Linked DNA regions of Homo sapiens: region 2 is linked to region 1. The links come from fine-mapping of genetic effects on gene expression. Tissue or cell type: whole blood. Region 1 holds a variant in brackets; the other region holds the start of a gene. All regions are shown on one strand. Distances are between the middles of the regions.

Region 1 (8,106 bases):
TCTCTCCCTAAACTACCTTGCCAAAGTGCTAGTGAAGGAAGGGAGCACCCACTTTTCCTCCTGGCCAGTCTTAAGAGCTGGACTCTTCATGTTGTTGGTGTGATACTTTCCAAAGAGCACATAGTTGAAACAAATTAAAGAAGACCTAAGTAAATATAAAGATATCCTGTGTTCACAATTGCAAAACTTCATATTATTAAGGTAACAACACTCATCAAGTTGATCTACAGATTCAGTGTAATCCCTATCAAAATTGTAACCACCTTTTTAGCAAAAATGGACAAGCTGATCCTAAAATTCATATGGAAAAGCAAGGGACCCATAATAGCCAAAACAAATTTGCAAAAGTAAAACAAAGTTGGAGAATTCACACTACCCAGTTCAAAACTTAGTACAAAGCTATATAGTAATCAACATAGTGTGTACTTGAGTAAGATTAGCCATATAGAGAAGTGGAATAAAATTGAAAAATCAAGAAATAAAACCAGGCCAGGTGTGGTAGCTCATGGATGTAATCCCAGCACTTTGAGAGACCAAGGCAGGAGGATGGCTTGAGCCCAGGAGTTCAAGACCAGCCTGAGCAACATAGCAAGTCCTTGTCTCTACAAAAAGTAAAAATAAAAAAATTAGCCAAATGTAATGGCACATGCCTGTGGTCCTAGCTACTCAGCAGGCTGAAGTGGGAGGATTGCTTGAGCCCAGAAGGTTGAAGCTGCAGTGAGTCGTGATTATGCAACTGCACTCTAACCTGGGTGACAGAGCAAGACCTTGTCTCAAAAAAATAAGAAAAAAATATATATGATTAAAAAGAAGAAATAAGGCCGGGTGCAGTGGCTCATGCCTGTAATTCCAGAACTTTGGGAGGCTGAGTCAGGTGGATCACTTGAGCTCAGGAGTTTCAAAACAGCCTGGGCAACATGACAAAACCCTGTCTCTACAAAATATACAAAAGTTAGCTGGGCATGATGGCGCATGCCTGTGGTCCCAGCTACTTGGGGGGCTGAGGAGGGAGGATCACTTGAGCCTGGGAGGTTGCAGTGAGCTGAGATCATGCCATTGCACTCCAGCCTGGGTGACAGAGCAAGATCCTATCTCAAAAAAGAAGATGAAATAAGCTCGTACGTATATGGTCAGTTGATTTTTGACAAGGGAACCAAAACCATTCAATAGGGAAAGAGCAGTCATTTCAACAAATGGTACTGGGAAAACTAGATATGCAAAATAATGAATTTAGACTAACTCACACCATATGTAAAAATTAACTCAAAATAAAGCAAAGACCTAAATATAAGAGCTAATGCTATAGAACTCCAGAAGAAAACATAGGCATAAATATTTGTGACTTTGGATTAAGCAGTGTCTTCTTAGATATGACATCAAAAGCATAAGCAATGAAACAAATGTAAATAAATTGGACTTCAAAATTTAAAACTGTGCTGAAAATGATACCATCAAGACAGTGAAAAGATAACTCCTAGTATCTAGAAAAATAAAGAACTTTAAAAAGTCAACAATAAAAAGACAAACAACTTAAAAATGGGCAGCCAGGCATGGTGACTTGTCCCTGTAATCCCAGCTGCTTGGGAAGCAGAGGCAGGAGCCTGCACTGAGCTATGATCACGCCACTGTACTCCAGCCTGGGCAACAGAGCAAAACCCAGTCCCTTAAATTATTAAAAAACAAACAAACAAACAAAAATACGGGCAGAGGATCTGAACAGACATTTCTCTAAAGATTAAAATTGCTAATAAAGGCCGAGGCGGGTGGATCATGAGGTCAGGAGATCGAGACCATCCTGGCTAACAAGGTGAAACCCCGTCTCTACTAAAAATACAAAAAATTAGCCGGGCGCGGTGGCGGGCGCCTGTAGTCCCAGCTACTCGGGAGGCTGAGGCAGGAGAATGGCGTGAACCCGGGAAGCGGAGCTTGCAGTGAGCCGAGATTGCGCCACTGCAGTCCGCAGTCCGGCCTGGGCGACAGAGCGAGACTCCGTCTCAAAAAAAAAAAAAAAAAATGGCTAATAAGCACATGAAAAGATGCCAACGTCAGTAGTCATTAAGGAAATGCAATTCAAAGCCACATATTTCATACTCGTTAAAGCGGTTAGAATAAAAAAGACAGACAATAACAAGTATCGGCAAGGATGTGGAGAAAACGAAACCCTCATATGTTGCTAATGGAAATGAAAATGTTGCAACCTCTTTGGGAAACAATTTAGCAGTTTCTCAAAAGTTAAATATAGTGCTACCATATGAGTCAGCAATTCTACTCCTAGAGGAGTACCCAAAAGAATTGAGAAAGTGTTTACCCAAAAACTTGTATGCTCATGTTCATAGCAGAATTATTCATAATTGCCAAAATGTGAGAGCAATGCAAATACACATCAACTGAGGAGTAGATAAACAAAATGGGGCATATCCATGCCATGGAATATCATTCAACCATCAAAAGGAATAAATTAATAGCACATGTATATGAACCTTGAAAATATTTTGCTACATGAAAAAGACAGCCACAAAAGCCCCATATTATATGATTCCCTTGATATGAAATGTCCAGAAGAGGCAAATCCACAGAGGCAGGAAGTAGATTAGTGGTTGCTAGGTCTGTAGGGATGGTGGGATGGGAATGACTGCTCACAGGTACAGGGTTTCTTTTTGGGGTAATGAAATGTTCTGTGATTAGATAGTGGTGATAGTTGCATAGCTTTGTGAATATACTAAAAGCCCCTGAATTATACACATTTCAAGGATGCTTTTTACCACATATGAATTACATCTTAAATTTCAAAAATCAATGATTTAAAAAAATGGGACACAGTGGCCAGGGAAACAAGTTACAAGTGTCACTGTTTCACTCACATTTTCTTCCTTTCTCAGATATTTGGGATATGCCTGGCCCAGAATTTGGTTAGCGATATCGAAGCTGTCAGGGCGAGCTGGTAGACCCCCTGCAACCGCTGCTGCAAGACACTGGACAGACCCAGCTTTCGGGACCCTCCCGCGTGCCGAACTGATCTTCGAGCTGCATGGACCTAATCACAGATGCAGCCTGCAGTCTCGCCTAATGGAGCTGCCATTAGGGGAGTGTAAAACTGGGAAATGCTGCTCACTGACAGAATTAAAAAAAAAAATAACCAGTATGAAAGTCGTTGCGCCGTGAATCTCTACTGTAGCCATGAATTTATGGACAGTTAGATGCTTACCAAAAAAGAAAAAAAGGGAGGGTAGGGGACCCAGATGTACTTGAATGTGCAGAAAATACATTCTTGTCCTCATCTTCCGTAATTGGAGGGCTGGGAGAGGCAGCTTTGCTCTTCACCACACCTTGGACGGACCACCTTCTTTCTGTTCCATGGCCTGAAGGAGTGCATCTCCTCAAAGACTCAGCCCCTCACCTGGGAGGGCAGTGGTTTGTGGGCATCCCTCCATGTACATTTTAGGAAACACTTGCAACTCTCATCTGAAGAAGAAAACAACT[C/T]ATCTTTGGGTTCAGATTTTGTGATGGTATTCAGCAAGTCACTTGGGCGAGCACACTTGGTCTATCCTGGAAAGTCTCCTTATAAGAGAAGTTGTGTATTTCATGTGCACCGAGCAAGGGCATTGGAAGACGTCATGAGGCTGTATTTTAGCAGGACTGATCGTTTTTCTAAGTAGACCTGAGCTTTGTTTATCAGTGAAATTCAAGGAGAAAATGAGGTTAATGAAGAGGTATCAGTTAAATATCCCCTTCTTCTCACCCTGCCAAAATTAGCAGTTGGATTTTTGGAAACTCTGGAATATTCTGGGTCATTTTGTTTTGTATGTTTGTTGTTTTTCGTCTTCCAAAGGTGAAAGCTATGATACAGTTCCACTTAAATTTTAGTGTTTTCTTACTCAGCTCAAGCATTAATTTTTGATTAAGTCTTAATCTGCATGACCTGTGAATCTGAATCCATCATCTCCCTTTCCTGCCAGCTTTTCTACAAACATTGAAATATGTTATTTGGTCAGCACTTATTTCCTAGGTTCACAGCCTTGGGAGGTTGTGGCATGTCCTCCCAGTCTGGCTGGGAAGAGACCAGCTGTACCATCCAAATGCTTCCCTGGTCTTGATGATCTCTTCCAGAGTCGATCTGAGTGGCCTTTTCTGCACCCTCCCCTTCTTTCTCTTTGAATGGAATTAAACCCAATTTGGAAACAACATTGACCCAGTCAAAAGCTTCTAATGGTTTCTTTTTCTTCCTCCAGTTTTAGTTTGCTTTTATTAAAAAAAGAAAATAGTGCATGGCCATAGCTCCTTCAGTTCTCTTATTGCAGACTAACCATCAGGATGGTATCAAAGCACAAATACTTTGGAGGGGAATGCGTTGAACTGGGGCAAGTACTCTGTAACACAAAGTGGGAAACCACTTCCTGGTGCTGCCGCTCCTGCCCCCACTTTAGGTGGGAGGGACGAGTTTTGCCCTCTAGATTTTAATCCAGCTGGTGTCCACCGGATGTTGCCCTCCTGGGGAGCAGATATCAGTCTGTGGAACTCTGGGAAAACCACAGGCACATTTTTCGGTGCGGACAGATTTGCCAGCACATAACTGGGCAGCCAGCTAGAATACTTTGTGGAAATTAAGCGAGGTTTTCCATTTCAGCCCCATGGTGCATGGTGGTGGCCGATGAATGTGTCAGTCTGCTCAGAGAAAGGACAAAAAGGAAATTATTTTCAAAACTGTGTTCACTGTTTGGGTGTGTGTATGGCTCTGCATGTGTGTGTTTTTGTCTCTGTATAGGTAGAGGTATTCACATCTTACTCCGACTGTAAGGTTGTCTTACTTCATCTCTGCCCCCACCACAGTTGCCATTTTGTAATGTCCTTCCAACATGGAGAAGACACGAGCTCTCTCCAGTTGGCATCATTTGTCTTTTTTGTTGATTGCCTCATTCTCCAGTGAACTCCATCTGGCCAATTGATTCAGAATCAGGCAAGATCCCTGCCCTTTGGCACATCCACTGAAAGGCCAAACAGCAAGTCCGAGTGAGTTTTAAATATTAATTAATCACCCTTTATTTTTTACACTTGAGAGTGATTGTAATAAAGGCTGTCATTAATAAACTTGGTTCTACCTTACATGGTGTGTCTTTCTTCATTACTTCTTTCTTGAAATTGTGAAATTTTCGAATCCAGTGGTTCTCAAACTTTAGCAGGTGTCAGAATCACTGGGAGGACTTGTTAAAACACATGAATGCATTTGCTCCGTGCCCATAATTTCTAACTTAGTAGGTCTGGGGTGGGGCTGGAGAATTTGTATTCTGATAAGATCGTAGGTGATGCTGTTTGCGGCTTGTTTGGGGACTACACTTTGAGAAGCATTGTTCTGATCCAGTTTTCTAGGAGGGGAAACAGAAAGGTAAGATTTTGTAGTTGGGAAGGGAAAGGTTCCTTTGTACTTAAAAATGCTGACTGACAAGACACAGAGGCCAGAGCCTCGTATGTAGGAAATCCCTGCCCATGAGGTCATCTGCTGGTTACAATCACTTGGGGACCATGTGAAATACAGATTCCCCAGACCTTACCCCTAGCAGTTCTGGAGTGGGAGACAGGGTAATCTATGTTTTAAAAGCTCCCTTGAAAATTTAATGCCTGGTGGGATTTATGACTTATGGGCTTAGATAAATGTTGATAATATTCACAACCTTTTATATAAGAAAATAATTTCTCACAGTCCCTTGGAGCTGGAATCTTAAAAACCCATTAGAGAAACGTCAGCTTAAATGTCTTTCATTGTGAATTATCACTGCAGAAGAAGACTTCCGTCGTTAGAACTGATTAAATACTTTTTTCAAAGATCAAATGAAAACAAATTTTAAGGTTCATATAGCACACTTAGATCCTGACAACATAGTGTCAGACTTGTTCAAGAAACGTTTTGCCTCATATCTCAGATATTTGAAACAACGTTATTTTGATTTTAAGGAAATTTATCAGTGATGATTGGAGATGGCCAATCCCTGCTTCTTGAGTTTTCTTATTGTCTACATTGGCCCTCTTTGCTTGTTGCAAACTATAAGCCAACAAAGGAAAAAAAAATGACAGCTCAGAAGTAAAAGGATGCTTTGTCTATAAAACTCAAAAACTTGGAGGAAGTTTCTTCAATGTGTAGAAGGTAGACTTTAGGGGAAGCTTATTAAATTTCTCTTTATTTCTGTTGTTGGGCTGGTTACCACTAACATCATTGCTCCTATAATTTAAAAATATACAGTTTTTAAATGTGAACTCAGGAATTTAAAAATATTTTGCATCATGAAGTACTTAAAGAAGTGCATTTCCTTTGTTCTTCCTCTTCCTTCTCCCAGGGAGTAATAAACCTGGACTTTTCTTTCAGCCTTCTTCCTGCCACAGGTCCCAGTTGTCCTTTCCTCAAGGGGATCCTCAAAGTGTCTCTTGGAGGTTTCTTGTGCAAAGTGATCATTCATTTCCCCGTGTTTGTGTGGGCAGGAATGGAGTGATTTTGCAGTTTCGTCTGTTTCCGGCTGGCTTGGACAGGCGCCCTGGGAAGCCTGTGGGCTGAACAATGAGGAGCTGGAGCCCAGTGACCTGGCAGGCCACCCCAACTCCCTTTGTCATTTATTCCACGAAGCCCTCCTTCTCTAGGGAAATCCTGTTTAGACCTCCAATGAAGAACTGGGAAGCCCTCTATAAACGCTGGCCAGCAGGGTTTCATGGCCAGAGCTCTCTCCAGTGAGGCCATGGGGCTGCTTCTAGGTGCTGCCCAATTCCAGAGTGAGAAGCCTAGTCTTTGAGGAGGAAAATGCAGCATTTGCCTGAAAAATACATTAACATTGGCTTTATCATGATGACACAATAAAATCCATAGAAAATCTACACATGATAACAGACAAGGCAGTCAGATGGGGGTGGGGGGGTGGGTGGGGGCAGGGAGCACGGCGGAGAAGCCAAACTCTGAACTTGGAGCAAAGCCATCCTTACACTCACCCGAGCCTTTTTGTTTGGAGGGGTTTGCCACAAAGAGTTTATAAAATTACAGTTTTAGGCCAGACAAGGTGGCTGGCTCACACCTGTAATCCCAGCACTTTGGGAGGCCAAAACAGGATGATTGCTTGAGGACAGGAATTCAAGATTAGCCTGGGCAACATAGCAAGACCCCGTGTCTTAAAAAAATGAAAAAAAAAATTTTTTTTAATTAGCTGGACCTGGCGTCATGCACCTGTACTCCCAGCGACTCTGGAGGCTGGGGCAGGAGGACAGCTTGAGCCCAGGAGTGAAGTATGATCGCACCACTGCACTCCATCCTGGTTGGCAGAGGAAGACCCTGTCTCTAACTTAATAAAATTACAGTTTTTAGGACTTCTTGAGGGATTAAGTACAGCTTGCTTTGGCGTTTTCATGCTGAGTGGTTCTCTTGTAAACTTGCCGCTGGTGAGAGGAGGCTGATTTAGTCCCTTCCTGTTATCCATTAGCCGGGGCTAAACCTCTGGGGACCCGCACTGGCCATTGTGATTTATTTTTCCACTTCTAGGAATTCCCAAGTAAAGTAAATCTAAGGGAAGAGCAGGCGAGTTCACGGGCTTTCACTGTAAATATGCCCCGAAAGGAAAGCAGTAGCAGGCTTCCCACGCTCTTGCCCCATACCGAACGCACGCTTGCATTCTCCGTGGGGGAAAGCTACTTTTCAGATACGGAGCGGACCTTCAGGTGCTGTGTCAGCTCTTGCATTTGCAGAGCAACTCGTTTGAACGGGAACGTTTTAATGGCCTGCCCTCTAGTGTCGACTGCGTAAAACCACTCCGGACTGGAGTTGGAATAGTTCAGGGATAAAAACACTGTATGTTCAGAGGCGCTTGTGCTTTGGAGAAACTTGAAGGTACACAGCTTATGTTGCCTGCTTAGGGCGGGTAGGTGTTTTATTTCCTTTACACGCTCCTGAAAATGGCAAGGCTTGTTTTGGAAAGATGAGAGAACAGGACGTTTTGCTCCCATCACCATCTATCCTGCTTGGGATCTTGCTGCTGGGAGTTTATCGCGGCAGGATGGAGCTGGGCCTTGTCCTCCCACCAGTTTTCAAATGTGGTTTCTAGACGACGATGGTGACTGCCTAAAGCTGCTCATCTTCCA
Region 2 (8,106 bases), 190 kb before region 1:
GGGTTAGGTCACACCCTAGAAGGAGTCACAGCAGATTGAGGAGACAGGTAGGTAAACAAGTTCTTACAGGCAGCCTTTAAGTGCCGGGATGGAAGAACACAGCGGGTGTTGAGGGAATAAAGAAGGAGCCTCCGAGACATTGAACAAAAGTAGTGAAGAATAAGAGAAATCAGCTCACAGACAAGAGACAAGGAGAATGCCCCAGGCAGAAACTCTAAATGACATGTGCAGAGGCACAGAATGTGAAGGAACATTGTGGTCCAAGTAACTACAAGGAATTGGATATCACCCCTACTCTTTGATCTTTAATTTCTGGCCAAGTCTTCAATATAAATAATGCTATGATATACATCTTGCAGTGTATAACTTTTTCCATCTGCTGGGGTATTTCTTTGGGTAGATTCCCAGAAGAGGGACTGCTGAGTCAAAATGTAGGAGCACTCTGACCTGATATATACAGCCAAAATGCTTTCCAAATGGACATATTATTTCATAAGGACACCAACAATGTATGTGCTAACCAGTGCTCATTATTTTTGTATCTTTATTAGTTTTAATGTATACTTCATTTATTACTAGATTAATTTCCCCATATATTTTATTTCTTATATGATTTATTTTCTGTTTATACTCAACCACTGCGATTCTATATTTTACTATAGCTCTATGAGCCCTACTTATAATATAGACATTCAGGTTTTTATTTTTCATGTTTGCTGCCAATTTTTTTTCTGGTTTAGCTTACACTAAAAAAAGCTGGACACGTAGAAGTGTTTAAGATATTACCCAATCATATCCATTGATTATTTCCTTCTATTGCCTCTAAGTTGAGAAATACTTCTATACAGAGGTTTGACAAATATTTTTCCTTCTGGTCTGCTTTAAAATATATTTAACTCCTTAATCCTCATAGAACTTATTTTGGATATACGAAATGAGATAATTCAATTAGTTTTTCCACCCCCCCCTCCAAATTACTGATTAGTTATCTTACCTTTCCCTTCTCCATTGATTTTTCTTTTTAAGACTTTATTTTCTTAGCAGTTTTAGTTTCACAGCAAAATTGAAAGAAAGACTGCATACTGTATGATTCCTTATATATGGCATTCCGGAAAAGGCAAAACTAAGGAGACAGGGATACAGTCAAACTTCAGTGGCTGCCAGAGACTGGGGGGAGGAAGGGATAAATAGGTGGTGTACAGAGGACTTTTAGGGCAGTGAAAATACTCTGTATGATACTATGATACTATGAGGGTGGGTTCATGTTATTCTATATTTGTCCAACCCTATAGAATATACAGCCCCAAGAGTGAACCCTAATGTAAACTATGGACTTTGGGTGATAATGATCTGGCAATGTAGGTTCACTATTTGTAGCAAATGTGCTACTTTGGTTGGGGATGTTGACAATGGGGGAGGGTGTGGGGTCGGGTATATGGGATATCCACTGATTTTTATTTCAAAGATAAATCCACTTAGAGATCAACTCAGTCATCAATTGCATCTAATTTCTGGTCCTTTTGAAATGTGTCACATCAGCTTAGGACAGACCTTTCTTCTGACTCATCCAGTATTCCTGCAGCGACTGTTCTATTTATATACAGAATTACAACATAGCTCCAATAGGCTTAGGTAAAGCTTGTCAGTACCTTCCTGTTAACAAGGAAATCTGCTGCTGAAAGACCTTACTTTTGAAGTCTACCAGATTGGTGGTAGTATGGCCTGTGTTTTGAGTGGGTAGAGAGCACTTTTGAGGGAGTGAGGATTATTTCATCCAAAGGGCTGAAGCTACTGTTATCCCGTGTCATAGCTTCTGAGGTACTGAATGAGTAGGATCTCCTGGCCCTCCCATCTCTGTGGGTACCTCGTTCATACTTGCGACCTCAATATAGCCTCAATCCTGCTGAAGCCCAGTACTATCTCTAAATGTGGTTTATTGCAGGAAAAAGTAGCTTCTTGACTAGCCAAAACTTGACTGCCGGTTGTCAACTAGCCAGTTTTTGAGAAAAGTGAGAGGTTGTTACGTAGGAAACCTTATAACTAGAGGCTCTCAAACTCAAGTATTTAAGTATCATCTTTTAGATTTCTGTGTCCAGGATCGGGTTGCACTGGGTGGTGCTGGAAAAATTTTTTGATCTCACCTCCTTCTAGCCTTTTGAATCCTTAAAAATATTCCCATAGACATTTATACACAGTCCTGGGCGGTTCTTCCTTCTCCTTCCGTGAAATACTGGTACCTGCTTTGCCAACACCTATGAAAGTGCTCCAGGAGGAGGGCGGATAAGCAACTAATGAGCACACCTGCTCAGGTAGGGTTCTAAAACAATTTCCAGCCACCTGTTCTATTCTTCCCCAGAGTTCAAAAGCTTAATGGTTCGTGATCCAAAAACCCAATTCAGATTCCCCAGAAGACCTCCCTGGAATCCGTTGTGGATTCCTTCCTAGAGTTAGGAGGCAAGCAGGTTTCTTAGGCACTATTCTGTCGGGGTAGGGGGGAGCGTGCGCTGTCCGGGTTTGTGTGGTTGCAATAGACCCTAGGGCGAGGATCGCATCCCGGGCCAGGACTCCCTTGAGCCATCTCTTTTTCCTCGTCCCCATTTCTAGGATAAAACCCATTTCTCCGGTAGGTGGGGAGGTTGGGTTAGAGTCACACAGGGATTCAGGAAGCTTTCCTTTTCAACGTCCCATCCCTTCATCCTTTCCTCCCACTTCCCGTGGCTCTTTTCTCCACCTTCCCCAACTACCCCCTTTTCCATTCAGCGAAGTCCACGACGACTTTCCTTCCCTGTCCAGTGGCATCGCATCTTCTCTAGCCACATAAGCCTGTTGTGGAGGAGGGGGCGCCAGTGTGGCTACCCTGGAAGGGGTGTCGGGGGTGGCTCGCAGGTCCTCACTCACCCAGCCCTCTCCCCGAGGAGCGACCCTCTCGCCCGCGTCCCTCCAGAGCTGCGCCGCTCATCAATCCCGGTCACTCTGCCAGCCTGCTCCCCGGGCGCCCTTCCTTCTCCCTCTCGCCTGCGGTCCTCCACCCTCCCACCCCCTACCTACCCCGCAGCGACGTTCGGGGTCAGCGGCGCTTGGGGTTGGCCCGAGAAGGGGCGGGGATAAAGCGAGCGGTGGAAGGAGGCGGCTACGTGGTGCCACCGCCGCCCGGGAGCGCCCGACCCCGTGCGCGCGCGCGCCTAGCCAAGGCTTGGGCGGCGGGCGGAGCTGCGGGCGGCGCGGGCGGAGGAGCAGCCGGCCGGGCGGGCGGAGCGAGAGGCGGGCGGAGCGAGGGGTGGGAGGGCGCGCGCGAACGGGCGGGCGAGCAAGCGAGCGGCGTCTCCACCAGCATCTGCCGCGGCCGCCTTTGCCCGAAGCCCGGGGACGAACCGACGGACCGACCGCCTGGCGCACGGACGCGGGCGCTCGCTTTGTGTTCGGGGCTAGCGTCGGCGAGGCTTGAGCTTGCAGCGCGCGGCTTCCCTGCTTTCTCGCGGCCACCCCGGCTCCGGCGGCCTCGGCGCGCGAGGGGCTGGAGGTGCGGGAGCCGCTCTCCGCCGGTCGGTCCCCGCGCGGCTGAGCCCAGGCCGCCAGCGCCGCGGCCCCGTGCGGTGTCCCTGAGCTCCTGCTCCCCGCCGGGCTGCTCCGAGCAACGGTGCTTCGGAGCTCCAAACTCGGGCTGCCGGGGCAAGTGTCTTCATGAACCCAGAGGATGTCCGGGAAGCACTACAAGGGTCCTGAAGTCAGTTGTTGCATCAAATACTTCATATTTGGCTTCAATGTCATATTTTGGGTAAGTTGGAGCGCTCCTGGGATTCCAACTATTGTGGCCGATCGATTCGCGACGATTTCCCCCACGTTGTTCGTTGCCTTTACTTTTCGCAGCCCCGCAGGCGCTTGCCGGAGCAGCATAGAGGCATTCGCCTTCCGCCTTTCCAGCTTGCGCGTTGGAGAGATAAACATTTAATCCTTTCGAGGAATGGGAAGAGGTGAAAAGAGAAATCGAGGCGGAAAGGGGGCACCGAGGCCTTCTGGTGGCTTTTTGAGGAACGAATAGCAGGGATGCAGATAAAAGAAAGGGTTCGGCAGTTTGAGAAATGAGCAACCACACGAATTGGATTTGCTCTCGGTGGGATATAGATGTTGGGCAGAGCGTGGTGTCATAATAGGGAAGGCTAATCGGGCACGGCCGACCCTGAGGTCCACCTTCTAACAACGATCTGATTGGACGAGGGCTTGGCTCCGTGTTGCCGCGGCTGGTCTGTGCCATGCTCAGCGTGTATCTTCTTGCACCATCTCGGGCTTTGTGTAGGATGCAGATGCCGTGGTATATGGTCCTGTAATTGCACGTAAATAACGTTTCCTGCACGCTCTCCTCTTCAGCTGGAAAGCGCTCCCTGTGCGTAATGGACTGGTCAGTGGGGGTGCGGGGTAGAGGGATTTATTTGTATGTATATATCATCGTCAGGATAATAAGTCACCGTCAACATATATTTCAGTGTGTTCCTGCCCCACGTCCTCATTTTTAAAGGAGTGACACAGAGCGGGCCGTTTGGGGGAACCTTTGTAGAAATGCAAAGGAGAAGGTGTGCGAGGCATGTTTTATTGGGGAACCGAGAGAGCAAATGCTTTAACACAAGATTCAAATGATGCTCTGCTTGGGACTGCAATGTGTTGGGAACCTATTGTAATTAGGCTGGGACGCCTACTCTTTTTGTTTGTTTGTTTGTTTTGATTCTTTTCCTTGATCTGGCAAACGTGTTCAGCAGCCAGACAAAGAGTTCTCCAGGACAAGGGGAAAACGTTGGTTCAAAGACCATGTTATTTTTCTTCCCCTTCTCATCCCATCTCATCCTCTTCCTCAGTGGGCACCCGCATTTCCATAGAAAGTAAAGATGGTGGCTGTCTGGGTAGGGGGTTCTCTAAGTTGCTGTTCAGTGTGAGGTAAACAATGCTCCAACTGCAGGATCAATAATTATCCACAGCAGTCTGAACACGGAATGTATTTATTTGAATTCTCCTTTAATTTGGGCTGTTTGCTGTACGTATATACATCTGTGAGAATAGTTGTCAATACGGCTCTTCATATTCTTTTTTTGTACCGCACTCTTACCAGGTTATTTTATTTTCTGTTTTCTATTATAATACCTTGCATTGGTCATGTATGTTTTGTGAGGGGAAATGCAAGGGATTGGAGACCACTTTCCGTGTCAGCATGTCATCTGTCTTCAGGACTAATAAAGATAATGAGGGGACACATGAATGGATGTCATATCCGATCATTCCACAGGCAGTTTTTTGCCAGTGTTGTGCATGATTCCCGGGAGCAGTCACCCACCTCCCTGCAATTAAACACTGCTACAAGTACAGGAAGAAGGAATTATTTTCTTTCTTTGCCCCTTCTCCATTTGTGAAAATGTTTAAAAGTGGTGGGTAGCCACGGTTTTGAGTAAGATATTCTGATTTGATTGGAACTTGAAACTTTGTGACTTGGAGAGGCACGGACTACCGAACTGGGACTGGTTCTTTTTGGGGTAGTGAGTTCAGGCCTCTTGTTTCTACTTGAACATTTCTAAAAGTTGCACATTTTAGCTACCCAGCAACAAAAAGCACCCAGGGACTTTCTCTGCCGTTTCCTAGCAGGGGGTGGTAAGGAAATAAAAGGATTTGGGTCTGTTTCCCTGACAGTTTGCTGTAATTCTGTGGAGTGCATAGAGACAAATTTAGCCCTTTCTATGGATTAGGTTGCAGCAAAACCCCTGGAATTGTAGAGAGCTTCAAAGAATTGCAGAGTGCTTGCTTGGAGAGGTCCAGAACAGAGCCGCATGTTTTCTGATTGTGAAGGTCTTCATAGGTGGGTGGGTGAGTATGGGAAGCCTGAAAGGAGACCTAGGCTATGGGACTAAACTAGCTGCCCCAGGCAGAATTGTTAAGTGAGTGCCTTCCTTATGAGGGCCCTTCACTTACCCTGCCTCTTGCCTTCCCTTCCTCTCCTCTCTGTGCCCAAAGCCTTCCTCTCAGATACTCCCTCATACCTTTCCTATCCTGCTCTCTGCCTCAAAATTACCCCATATTTAAATTTCCTGCTTTATTGTACCATGGTCTCTAGTGATGATCAACAGAAAGGCAACCATATGGTTTTGGTTAAAGTAATTCAGACTAAGATGTTAGTGACTGAAAAGCTGGGGTCAGTAGCTTGGCAGCTTGCTTCTGAAAAGTTACACACCTCTGCTCTCTACAGAGTCACCAACCTGTCTGTGATTGCCAAAAACAGCAGACTCGGTGCTACTCCCATACAATTATGAAGAAGAGATTGCCAACAGCATGGTTTCCTAATTTTCATTTTCACACTGAACTGCTAGACTACATTTGACATACACTGGTGACATTCAAAGGTATAGTTCTGGTAAAATAAAATTGAACATATGGTGGCACCAGCACTGAGAGCTTGGTTCTTTTCCTGATCAGCAGTTTGGCTCTTCATCAGTTAACTGCCTGGGCCTCAGTTTCTCAGCTGTTAAATTGAAGGAGGTGGATGAGTTATAACGTTCTTTCTAGTTCTTACACAGAATGAGTTTCTTGAGTTCCAATATGCTGGAGAAGAAAAATAGAAGAGTTTGGCCACTAATTTATAACAGAAGTAGTATATACCAGGACACGTGATAAATTATAGACATTTTCTGTTAGGGAGACTTGTCTGAAGACTAGTTTTATTACTTTCATTTCTTCCTCAAAGATCCTTTCATAAAAAACAAACAAACAAAAAACAAAAAACAAAAACAAAAAAAAACCAAGGCTGGGCGCGGTGGCTCACGCCTGCGATCCCAGCACTTTGGGAGGCTGAGGTGGACGGATCACAAGTTCAGGAAATCAAGACCATCCTGGCCAACATGGTGAAACTCTGTCCCTACTGAAATACAAAAAACTAGCCAGGTGTGTTGGCGGGTGCCTGTAGTCCCAGCTACTCGGGAGGCTGAGGCAGGGGAATCACTTGAACCCGGGAGGTGGAGATTGCAGTGAGGCAAGATCACACCACTGTACTCCAGCCTGGCAACAGAGCAAGACTCCGTCTCAAAAAAAACAAAACAAAGCAAAACAAAAAACCTTTCACTAATTTCTTCTTGGCTTGTTCAGTTCCTGGTATAGTGTCCGTGCTTCTCTCTCCCCACTGTGAATCTCAAATGTAGTCCTGTGAGTCATTAAATATATTTTTATTATTAGAATTACAGCTTCATGTATAAAATCTGAATCCTTTTATATAACAGTTGTAATGACATTCTGAGTAACAAAGTCAACATCTTGTACAGATTCCTTTCTCATTAGTTATCACAGGCTGGTGGGGGAAAACTTGTTTCCTCTGTTATATATTGGAACAATTCAAGACAGAAGGGAATTGATTTTATTGAGGGTGTCACCGTACTGGGACATTTCTCAGAAAACCCTGAGACTGCTTTGGGTTTGGGGGAGGGAGAAGAAAGAGGATTTTGTTTTAAAGTCATTTCTTTGGGGTACCGAACACCACATCCCATCACTCATCATTAATAGATGTTTTGCCCTTTTGGATTCTGGCTTTTAACTGTTTTGGATTCTGGATACTTAACTGTTCCCAGGCAAGTAAATTGATCTCAATATTCTGGTTATTTATTGCTACATAACCTCCAAGCTTAGTTGTTTAAAACACAGTTGTTTATTATTATAGTTCACAGTTCTGTGATTTGGCCAGGCTCATCTGGACAGTTCTCACTTGGGGTCTCATACAGTTGTGGTGAGATGTAGTTGGAGTTGGACTTACCGGAAGGCCCTCTGGGCAGGATGCCTGAGATGGTATACTCATATGACTGGAAGCTGATGCTTGCTGGGAGCTTAGCCAGAGTTGTCACTGGAGCACCTACCTACACGTGGCTTCTTCCTGTCTCTAAGTCTTAAAGAAGCTTCCAGCCAGTTAAGGTTCCACTTAGAACTGGCAGTGCCACTTTTATCTATTCCATTGGTTAGAGCACTCATGCAGACTGCTGAATTTCAAAGGGTGAAGAATTAGAAGCCACCTTTTGATGGAGAAGTGTCAAGGTCACATTGCAGAAAGTCATGTAGGTTGTGGCCATCTTTGAAAAATATAGTCTACTG

Evidence for each region. PIP is the estimated chance that this variant, and not a neighbour inherited with it, causes the effect.
Region 2: it holds the start of TSPAN5, and the variant in region 1 is fine-mapped to the expression of TSPAN5 in whole blood (TOPMed, PIP 0.90).

The regions. Positions count from the first base shown.
Region 1 is chr4:98,467,361-98,475,466 of GRCh38, reverse strand. TSPAN5 (tetraspanin 5) reads left to right here. Exons shown (of 8, transcript NM_005723.4): 8 at 2,880-5,100. The coding sequence ends at 2,945. Among named protein-coding and RNA genes, the nearest start is that of TSPAN5, 190 kb to the left of the region's middle. The variant C/T (reference allele first, on the strand shown) is at 3,481.
Region 2 is chr4:98,653,815-98,661,920 of GRCh38, reverse strand. It overlaps TSPAN5 (tetraspanin 5), which reads left to right and starts at 3,310. Exons shown (of 8, transcript NM_005723.4): 1 at 3,310-3,775. The coding sequence starts at 3,695. TSPAN5-DT (TSPAN5 divergent transcript) reads right to left here and starts at 3,019. Exons shown (of 3, transcript NR_148380.1): 1 at 2,899-3,019; 2 at 995-1,123. It overlaps LOC112267901 (a long non-coding RNA gene), which reads right to left and starts at 3,198. Exons shown (of 3, transcript XR_939016.3): 1 at 3,049-3,198. RefSeq lists silencers at 3,153-3,332, 3,586-3,745 and an enhancer at 7,453-8,106.